Homo sapiens: one gene and its partners. The protein of the gene in region 2 interacts with the protein of the main gene of each other region in a pairwise test. Each region holds a gene or a part of one and is shown on either strand. Other genes may lie near its edges.

The links.
Region 1: the proteins of BRAP (region 2) and ZNF382 interact in a two-hybrid assay, tested with the Homo sapiens proteins (one study listed by BioGRID and IntAct).
Region 3: the proteins of BRAP (region 2) and ATMIN interact in a two-hybrid assay, tested with the Homo sapiens proteins (one study listed by BioGRID and IntAct).

The regions. Positions count from the first base shown.
Region 1 is NC_000019.10:36,629,302-36,632,105, reverse strand, and holds part of ZNF382 (zinc finger protein 382), read right to left. Parts: 3' UTR 1-2,804. UniProt on the Homo sapiens protein: Functions as a sequence-specific transcriptional repressor.
Region 2 is NC_000012.12:111,675,916-111,679,568, forward strand, and holds part of BRAP (BRCA1-associated protein), read right to left. Parts: intron 3,426-3,653; coding exon 3,236-3,425; intron 1-3,235. UniProt on the Homo sapiens protein: Negatively regulates MAP kinase activation by limiting the formation of Raf/MEK complexes probably by inactivation of the KSR1 scaffold protein.
Region 3 is NC_000016.10:81,034,494-81,038,794, reverse strand, and holds the start of ATMIN (ATM interactor), read right to left. Parts: upstream 2,954-4,301; 5' UTR 2,925-2,953; coding exon 2,589-2,924; intron 2,059-2,588; exon of another isoform or gene 1-2,058. UniProt on the Homo sapiens protein: Transcription factor. Plays a crucial role in cell survival and RAD51 foci formation in response to methylating DNA damage. Involved in regulating the activity of ATM in the absence of DNA damage. May play a role in stabilizing ATM.

The DNA of each region.
Region 1 (2,804 bases), on a different chromosome or scaffold from region 2:
GACAGTGTGCGGTCTGTGTGTGAATAAAACCACTGAGGAATGTGCAGCTAGATGATTCTGAGCCCTAATGCTTACCTTCCCTTTCTTTTGCTGAGCCACATCCTTTGCTTCTAAGTAAAAACATTTCCTGGGTATGCTCTGTGGAGTCCTGTTAGTCCTCTGAACTGATGAACTCATTTTGCATATGCCTTATGACCTTGCAGTTAGGTCTACAAAATATGAATTTGTAAAATCACTCCTATTTTGTCGTATATGTTTAGGTCAAGTTGACTTAGATTCTATAAACATGTTTGCTCCTTAGAGTTGCCCAAACTTCATTGAGCAATATATAAGTTAGATGAAAAATACTCATGCACCACATGACATTTTGGTCCATGATGGACTGCATATATAATGGTGGTCTCATAAGATTATAGTACCAGCCAGGCATGGTGGCTCACACCTGTAATCCCAGCACTTTGAGAGGCCGAGGCGGGTGGATCACGAGGTCAGGAGATTGAGACCATCCTGGCCAACATGGTGAAACCCCGTCTCTACTAAAAATACAAAAATTAGCCGGGTTTGGTGGTGTGCACCTGTAGTCCCAGCTACTCATGAGGCTGAGGCAGGAGAATCACTTGAACCCAGGAGGCGGAGGTTGCAATGAGCCGAGATCACACCACTGCACACCAGCCTGGGCGACAGAGTGAGACTCTGTCTCAAAAAAAAAAAAAGATTATAGTACCACATTTTTACTGTACCTTTTCTGTGTTTAGATAGGTTTACATATACAAATAATTACCATTGTGTTACAATTGCCTATAGTATCCAGCACAGTAACATGCAGTACAGATTTGTAGCCTAGGAGCAACAGGCTCTACCATATAGCCTAGGTGTTTAGTAGGCTGTACCATCTCGGTTTGTATCAGCACTCTGTGATGCTTGCACGATCATGACACTGCCTCATGATGCATTTCTCAGAATGTATCCCTATTAAGTGATGCAATGCTGTATTTATCAATTCATAAAGTGAAAATCTCTAAAGTGAGTGAAGTGGCTCACACCTGTAACCCCAGCATTTTAGGAGGCCGAAGAGGGAAGATTGCTTGAGGCCAGGAGTTCAATACCAGCCTGGGCAACACAACGAGACCCCATATGTATAAAAAATAAAAACATTAGCTGAGAGGAATGGCGCCTGCCTGTAGTCCTAGCTACTTGGGAGGCTGAGGCAGGAGAATTGCTTGAGTCCAGGAATTCAAGTCTGCAGTGAGCTATAATGGCACCACTCTACTCCAGCCTAGGTGACAGACTGAGAACCTGTCTCAAAAAAATAAAAAAAATGCAAAGAAAATTTCTGATTTCTTCAAAAGAAATCTTCAAGCAGGATTCTGGAATACAGCCCAATGCTGTTTCATGCCAAAATATAAACCACAGGACCAAATTTTCCTAAGGAGCGGCAGCTTATATGTAAATAGCTTTAGAAAACACAATTTCGGCTGGGTGCGGTGGCTCACACCTGTAATCTCAGCACTTTGGGAGGCTGAGGCGGGTGGATCGCCTGAGGTCAGGCTTTGGAGACCAGCCTGGCCAACATGATGAAACCCCGTCTCTACTAAAAATACAGGTGGGCGCCTGTAATCCCAGCTACTTGGGAGGCTGAGGCAGGAGAATTGCTTGAGGTAGAGGTTGCAATGAGCCGAAATTGCGCCATTGCACTCCAGCCTGGGAAACAAAAGTGAAACTCTGTCTCAAAAAAAAAAAAAAAGAAAAGAAAACGCAACTTTATTTAGACTTTCTTTAAAGCATTCAAAAGTACCTCCTTCACGGACATTCATTAGATTCCATACCTTGATTTCTCTCTGCGCCTTTGTTGAGAAATGACAGCACGGGGTCTTTTGAGGATAGATCGCATTATCCTGCCTTTCTTTTGGGGGCTATTTTCATTTTTTGTGTGTGCAAAATTGGGAAGTATATGATGAATATGATTTACTGCCAGAAAATGAGAAAGAATATATATGGACCCCTCAATTGAGTTGTAATTATTAAGGTATGTAATCGTAAGGCAAAAATGCAGCCAAATCTTCAACTGTATTTTATGGCCAGTTTTTCTTCATGCCAAAATCACCTATTAGTAACAACAATACCTTTGCTCATTGACTCTAGAATCCATATATTTACACCTTTATGTATTTATTTATTTATGAGACAGGGTCTCGCTCTGTTACCCAGGCTGGAGTGCAGTGGTGCTATCCTGGCTCACTGCAACCTCCGCCTCCCGGGCCCAAGTGATCCTCCCACTCAGCCTCCCGAGTAGCTGGGACTACAGGCATGTGCCACCATTCCTGGCTAATTTTTTGTAGAGATGGGGTTTTGGCATGTTTCCCAGGCTGGTCTCGAACTCCTGGGCTCAAGTGATCCTCCCAACACCTCCCAAAGTGCTGGGATTACAGAAATGAGCCACCAAGCCCAGGCTTATACCTTTATTTTTATTATATATTAACAGATACTAAAAAATTACTTTTCCCTTTTAATAAAACAATCAAGTTAAATAAAAACTTTTTTATTAAATAAAAAATAAAACTGTTTGTAGTTAAAAAGCCTGATGATTTTGTTGGCCAGGAATTTGGGAAGGCCTCAGCTGGGCAGTTCTTGCTTGAGGTCTCATTTGTGGTACCAGTTGGGTGTTAGCAGGGTCCACAGTCATCTGAAGGCTTGACTGGATGTCCAAGAGGCCTCACTTACATGGTTGGCAGCTGATGCTAGCTGATGGCTGGGAGCTCAGCTGTAGCTGTTGACCAGGGGGCCTACACATAGACTTCCTAGCA
Region 2 (3,653 bases):
ACAACAAAATTGAACTTCCTTCTGCTTTTCCTATGTCCTGAAGAACTGTAAATTCTCTACCCAAAGACCAAGTTTCCTAAGGGTCACACTACAAATTGGTAAGCACACCCCCCCTTTTTTTTTGATCTTTTAAAAAAAATTTTTAAGAAACAGGATCTTGCCATGTTGCCCAGGCTGGTCTTGAACCCCTGGCCTTAAGCAATACTCCTGTCTTGGCCTCCCAAGGTGTTGGGATTACAGACATGAGCCACCACACCTGGCCTCACAACTCTTTCAGCTAAAGCTAAGGCCAACAGAAATTCAAAAATTACCAAAGATAAAGAGAAGGCTTATAAGTCCTTATTTAAAAATCTGTGGTGAGGAAAAGAATAAAAACATAGTTAGGTGCCCAGGCTATGGAGTCAGGCTGCCTAGGTTTGAACCCTAACTCTGACACCTACTAGCTGTTTGGCTGCAGGCAAGTGACTTATCTGTGCCTGTTTCCTCAACTGTAAAATACATGGCATTTTTTTTTTTGAGACAGAGTCTCGCTCTGTTGCCCAGGCTGGAGTACAGTGGTGTGATCTTGACTCACTGCAACCTCCACATCCCAGGTTCAATAGTTTCTCCTGCCTCAGCCTTTCAAGTGGCTGAGATTACAGGCGTGCGCCACCACATCCAGCTAAGTTTTATATTTTTAGTAGACATAAGCTTTTACCATGTTGGCCAGGCTGGTCTCAAACCACTGCCCTCAAGTGTTCCGCCCACCTTGGTCTCTCCCAAAGTGCTGGGATTAAAGGCATGAGGCACTGCACCTGGCCAACATGGCATCGTTGAGAGGATTCAAGGAGACAATGCATGGAAAGCACTTGGCACAGGGTCCGGTCTCTAGTAAGTGCTTCAGAGTTGGTAGCTACTGAGCCTATTATTCTCACTACAGCCGATATTAGTTTAACTTCCAGTCTTACACCAAGAGGGTATTATTAGGTATTAGAAAATCCCTGTTAGGATGATAGGGATTAGCCCCTAAGACCCAGAGTTAGCAATAAATAATACAACTCATGATACCAAGATAAAGGGTTCTAGCCCCATGGGGAAGAGCATGCAGCAACCTGTTTCGCAGTCTCAGAAAAACATGTCAACTTGAGCAACCTTCACTTGATCAAAAGACACAAGGGGAAGGATAGTGCAGATGTACAAGGAAAATTCATTCACAGTAAATATCCACAGTACTACCTGCACATTATGAAGGGCAGTACTTGTTATAGGGAACTGTGTGGGTTTATTAAACAGGTGACTGTGGTGGATTTATACGACTTCAGACTATTTCAAAAGCCTGAGTGCTCTTCAACATTTTTTTCCCAATCTATTTCTGGGTCTTTTCCTTTGTTACTTGCTTATTGCCCTAGTTGTTAAGTAGAAACTGTAACAATACTGCTGTCATAGAATGTCTCACAAACAACCGCCTCCCTTCCCCACACCTTCATCCCACTCCTACTAGAAGAGGAACGCGTCCCTGGAATTAAAAGTGAGGGTGCCACACTCTTGCTTGTCATTTATGTCTAGCTATGTAACCTTGGGCAAACCATGTATCTCCCTCTGCAGTCACCCTCCTCATCTGTAAAACAAAGATAACAACACAGTTTCCGCAAGGGATTGTAGTGAGGATTAAATGAGACAAAGTGTATTGAACACTTAGCACAGTGAGTGATACAGAAGCCATCGATAAACGTTGGATATTATCATCATTATCCTTATTATTACATGTGCTACCAGACTGAAATGGCTTAAGGCACGATTTTCCCATGGTTTGCAAAGCTCCTTGGCACCCTTGGAAGGCTTTCTGATGGACAGTGAAAGGAGCTATTCAAGTGCTTTTCTGTTCTTAATGTCAACTTGTAAACTTTAAATCCAAAGGATAATTGAAACCTTTTAAATGTCTCCCTAAATGATGGGGTACTTTGTAAACAGAAAACATAATAACTGTGTACTCTCTTGCAGACAGAACTCCACACTAAAGCTTCTCTCTGGAGATCACAGAACAGGTACACTCTTCCCCCACTAAAAAGAGAATGAGGCCGGGTGCAGTCGCTCACGCCTGTAATCCCAGCACTTTGGGAGGCTGGGGCGGGCAGATCACCTGAGGTCCAGAGTTTGAGACCAGCCTGACCAACATGGAGAAACTCCGCCTCTACTGAAAATACAAAATTAGCCAGGCATGGTGGTGCATGCCTATAATCCCAGCTACTCCGGAGGCTGAGGCAGAATGGCTTGAACCCAGGAGGTGGAGGTTGCTGTGAGCTGAGATCGTGCCATTGCACTCCAGCCTGGGCAACAAGAGTGAAACTCCGTCTCAAAAAAAAAAAAAAAAAAAATGAAAGAAGTGGGGGTAATGGAAAAATAATAAGATGGTGTTAACTTCAAAAAGTCTGGGAACCACCGCTTTTCTGGAATAGTTACCGCTTGTTTAAAAAAACAAACAGGCCGGGCATGATGGCTCACGCCTGTAATCCTAGCACTTTGGGAGACTGAGGCGGGTGGATCACAAGGTCAGGAGTTCGAGACCAGCCTGGCCAACATAGTGAAACTCTGTCTGCACTAAAAATACAAAAATTAGCCAGGCATGGTGGTGCATGCCTGTAGTCCCAGCTACTCAGGAGGTTGAGGCAGGAAAATCGCTTGAACCCGGGAGGCGGAGGTTGCAGTGAGCCGATACCACACCACTGCACTCCAGCCTGGGCGACAGAGCGAGAATTCGTCTCAAAAAGAAACAAACAAAAAAACACACTAGATTTTTTTTTTTTTTTTTTTTGAGACGGAGTCTCACTCTTGCCACCCAGGCTGGAGTGCAGTGGTGTGATGTCAGCTTTCTGCAACCTCTGCCTCCTTGCAAAACCCTAAACTTCATACTCAATCTGATCTATAAAAAATCATGGGCATGAGGCCAGGTGCAGTGGCTCAGAGCATCTGTAATCCTAGCACTTTGGGAGGCCAAGGCAGGAGGATTGCTTGAGGCCAAGAGTAGCCTGGAAAACACAGCAAGATCTCATCTCTACCGAAAAAAAAAAAAGTGTATACGTTATAATTGTATTTCTGCTAATGAATTTAGAAATACATCTAGAATTACAATTATATCTTAGAAGACATCTCAAGAATCTTAAGTGCAAAATGTTGTAAATCACACACAGCTATCATACAGTTTGAATACCACAGTTTCTGTGGCAAAGAGATTTTTAATAAATTTAATAACTTTTACCTGTGCACGAAACTTTATCAGCACCATATATTGGTTGGGAGTAGAGTCTCTGATAATTTTCATTTGTTCAATTACTTCGTTAAATGGGGCAACAAACTTCATAAGGTCATGACTGGTCATTGCAGCAGGGACTGTGAGAATACACAGCATGGCACTGCGCCGCACATCTTCTTTTAAGGAGGTCATCTTACTAACAAAAAAAAAATTAGAGTGTCTTGAATAGATGAGGTATGGTTAGTTTAAACAATACTAGACAACTTTTATGTCCAAGAAAACAGGAAAAAATAAAAATTGTAATATTTCATTAATGAACTGTTCTATATTATACCCCCCATTGGACTTTTTAATCTTCAGTTCAACATTTATTACGGTTATAAATCTGCATTCGGTAAATTTGCAGTGTTTTACTCTCATCAAT
Region 3 (4,301 bases), on a different chromosome or scaffold from region 2:
AATGTTTGAGGCAGGGCATGGTGGCAGGAGCCTATAGTCTCAGCTACTGGGGAGGCTAAAGCAGGAGGATCACTTGAGCTCAAGAGCCTGACAGCAACCTGGGTTAACAGAGCAAGACCCTGAAAAGCCTTCTATGTAGTAACCAGACAAGGTACAGATCTCCATACTGGGCACCATCATATAGATGGCTATTGCATCACACAGACAACCTTCATTAAAGGAAGACACCAAGACAGGAGCTGCTCAGGGGCCACTGGGCACTGCGGTTAGAAAGCCAGGACAAGACAGGAAAGTCAGTCTGCTTGTCAAGAAAAAAATGATGGATCTGGTGAGGTATAATTCCTGCTAAAAAAAAGTTTGCCCTGGCTGGGCACAGTGGCTCACACCTGTAATCCCAGCCCTTTAGGAGGCTGAGGCGGGTGGATCACTTGAGGTCAGGAGTTCGAGACCAGCCTGGCCAACATGGTGAAACCCCACCTCTACTAAAAATACAAAAATTAGCTGGGCGTGGTGGTATGCACCTGTAATCCCAGCTACTAGGGAGGCTGAGGCAGGAGACTCGCTTGAACCTGGGAGGCAGAGGTTGCAGTGATCCAAGATGGCGCCACTGCACTCCAGCCTGGGCGACAGAGTGAGACTCTGTCTCAAACAAAACAAAAAAAACCCAACATAATTAGAAACAAACCTACTGTATACTAACCAGTCCTGAAAGGCAAATGGTATCTTTATGTTCAACAGATGTTTACCAGGGTCTTTAAAGAGCTAGAGCTCCTAACAACAACTCCACAGAAAGGAACAACAGAAACTATTAAGAAATAGTTCATCCACCTAAGTTATGATTAAATAAAGGATTTAGGTCGGTCGCGGTGGCTCACACCTGGAATCCCAGCACTTTAAGAGGCTGAGGTGGGTGGATCACCTGAGGGTCAGGAGTTCGAGACCAAGCTGGCCATCATGGTGCAACCTGTCTTTACTAAAAATACAAAAAAAAATTAGCAGGGTGTGGTGGCAGGTGCCTGTAATCCCAGCTACTAGGGAGGCTGAGGCAGGAGAACTGCTTGAACCCCGGAGGCAGAGGTTACAGTGAGCTGAGATGGCGCCACTGCGCTCCAGCCTGGGTGATGGAGTGAGACTCTGTCTCAAAAACAAACAAAAAAACACAAAAACAATAGGGAAGAAAAGGATTTAGTTAAAATTTAGTATGAAAACAAAACAACAGGTTGAAAGCCATTCCCAGAGTTACACTTGAGTGCTGAAAGAAACCCAGAGCTTTTCAGTCCAACAATTCGGCCCCACCTGCACGGTCTTCCTCAGCATACCTCAGGTACATTTCCTGACTGGCTCCCTGATCTTCAATTGAGAACGTTGTTGCATCCCGGTTTAGATGGTGGTAAGAGCAGATCACTCTTCATTGGCGACACATCTGTCCTACTAGAGACTACAACCTCAGAGTTTTCTGCTGTGAAATTCTTATCAGAAGCCTGACTATGGGCAGACAGAACATGCAATATTCTGGGTACTCTAAATTTACTCCTGATCATCAAAAGCTACATATTCGCAGAACTGCTTTCAATGACTTGCGCTTTTGAATTATGTCACTGCTGGCCTAGAGTGGTGGAAGGAAACTTGCCATTGTAATGACTGAGAGATTGTGACTTAACAGGTCCGGGGTGGGGCTGGACATCTGGATTTTTAATAAGCTTGTCACAGATGTGTCCCAAGGTTGAAAATGACTGCCCTGTTTTGCATAACGTGGAGGGTTGTTGAGACTATTGTCATGGTGTATTTACTGTGTCCCCCTCTTAAAGAAGAGCCACAGGGGCAATTTCCCTTAGGTCTCAGTCCTGAGCTGATCTTACCAACACCGTGAAACTGACTGATGGTGTTTAGAGGCAAACCTACCGCTCCTTTAAAACATTTTTTTATTCATAATCGACACACAGTAATTATTCCTACTGATGGGGTGCGGTGTGCAGCATGGATGGACATATACATTGCATAGTGATCAAGTCAGAGTGTTTAACATGTCCTCGACCTCAAACGTATTGTCTCTTGGTGGTGAGAACATTTAAAACCCTCTCTTCTAGTTATTGTGGCACATACAGTCCACTGGGCAGGACCCAAGGGCGGCATTGTGGGTGTCGTGGCAAGCACAGGGCTTTAGAACCAGAGGCCCCGGTTTAAAGCCCCGCATCATCTAGGTTGCATAATCTGTTTCTCATTAATATAATGGAGACGATGCGTCCCTCGCCAAAACGCCGTTAAGAACTCACAGGCAAAAAAGTGTAAAAAGCCTGGGCCGGCGTCCGGCACGACACTCGGGGCCAGGGAGCCAGGGAACCAGGGAACTGGCGCGTACGGCGGACCCGGGGCTCCCAGCTCCTCCTCCCCCCCAGAGGCCGCACCTGCGGCGCCTGCCGCGAGGGTTCGAGAGCCGCCTCCGGCCGGGGAGGGCAGAGGCCGGTGGGGCAGCGGCAGCGGCAGCGCGCAGGGCGCTCGTCCCCCCGAGGCCGGCTTCGCGCGCCGGCGCCGGGCGCTTTGTTGGAGCCAGGCCCGGCCCCCCGGGCCGCCGGCCGCGTCGGGCTCACCTGCAGGCGGTGGCTCTTGACTAGGTGCATGTTGAGCGCGGGGCTGTTGGGCAGGATCTTGCCGCAGCCGCGCACGGTGCACAGGATGTTGGTCCGCACGGCCCGGGACAGCTCGCTCACCGACGGCTGGATCAGCTCCCCCGCCGGCGGCGCGGGGACAGCGGGCTGCTGCGTCGCCCCCGCGGGCCGCGGCCGGCTGCCCCTCAGTCGGGGTCCCGGGGGCACCCACGGGCCCGAGGCGGCGGCGGCGGCTCCTGTCGTGGCCGCCGGGACGGCCCGGGCACCCGCCGCCAGAGCCGCGGACCCCGCCGCCGCCGCCGCCTCCGAGGCCGCCATGGCTCCCGCACGGCCGCCCGGCCCAGTTCGTAGGCCCCGCCCCCGCCGCAGCCACTTCCGGCAGGGGGCGAGGCCGCCAGGCTTGTTAGCATCCGGCGGGCCCAGGCGGCCGCGGCGCCCCCTGCCGGCCGCGGAGGGCGCGCCTTGGAGGGAGAGGACTTTAGGTGACGCCGCCAGGAGGCGAAATTTCACCTGCCAGCAGGTAAAAGGTATTGCCCCGCCTCTCTAATCGATCCATTCTTCCTAGGAAAGTGACTTCAGGCAGTAGTCACATAAAAGAAAAAGCAATACGTTGAGCAATGCGTTTACTTCCCAAAGATTAGAAACAACCCAAATGTCTAGTGGCAGGTGAGGCAGAAGTACACTGATTTCCGCCGTTGTTTATTACCTAGGCCTTACTGGGTACCAGGTGGGTCTGGTGGATGCACTTTTCATGCTGTGTCTCATTTTGTCTTCAAAACGACTGTAGCGGGTATGTACTGTAACTTGCCCCACCTTGTGCAGAGAAGGACATTTAGGCTTATATAAATTAAGTAACTTGACCTAGACCACACTATACAAATGAAAAGATTGTTATTATTGATAGGATTAATCATTTTAAGAAGGCTGGATTTGCTTGCTTCTATTTTAGCTGCTGAAATTAGGATTACTGTTTGGGAGACACTGCAGTTCAGTATACGATTACAAAACTTAATACTTAGACTGGGTAGTTCATGTAAATGGACATAGGAGGCTGGGGTAGACAAAAGGGAGGGGTGAGGACTGCAGTGAAATTGGAAACACATCCTTTATTAAAAGGGGGCAGCTGCTACTCATCTTTGGTATGGCTAGAGTTTTATGTGAAAATTTCCACCTTTTACATACTAGCAGCTATATTCGTTTTCTCTTGCTATTAATAAATTACCACAAACTTACTGCCTTAACACAAATTTATTATCTTCCAGCTCTGGAGGTCAAAAGAAATGAGACTGCTGGGCTAAGATCAAGGTGTCAGCAGGGCTGTATTCCTTCCCAAGGCTCCAGGGGAGAATCTGTTCACTTGCCTTTCCCAGCTTCTAGAGGTTGCCTACATTCCTTGGCTTGCGGACCCTTCCTCCATCTCCAGAATCAGTAACGGTGAGTTGAGTCTTCGTCACATCACATCACTCTGATTTCTTCAGTAGTGATCCCTCTGATTCTTCTATTCTTGAGGCCCCCTGTGATGACATTGGGCCCATTCAAATCATCCAGGATAATTTCTCCAACTGCCAAGTCCCTTTGCCTTGCAAGATAACTGTGATAATGTGAAGTATATATTTGGTCTTTGTCCTGGCATGCAATTCCTAAAATCCTTGGAATCAGCAAATTGGTGTTTTTTTGTATGCTAATTAGTTGACT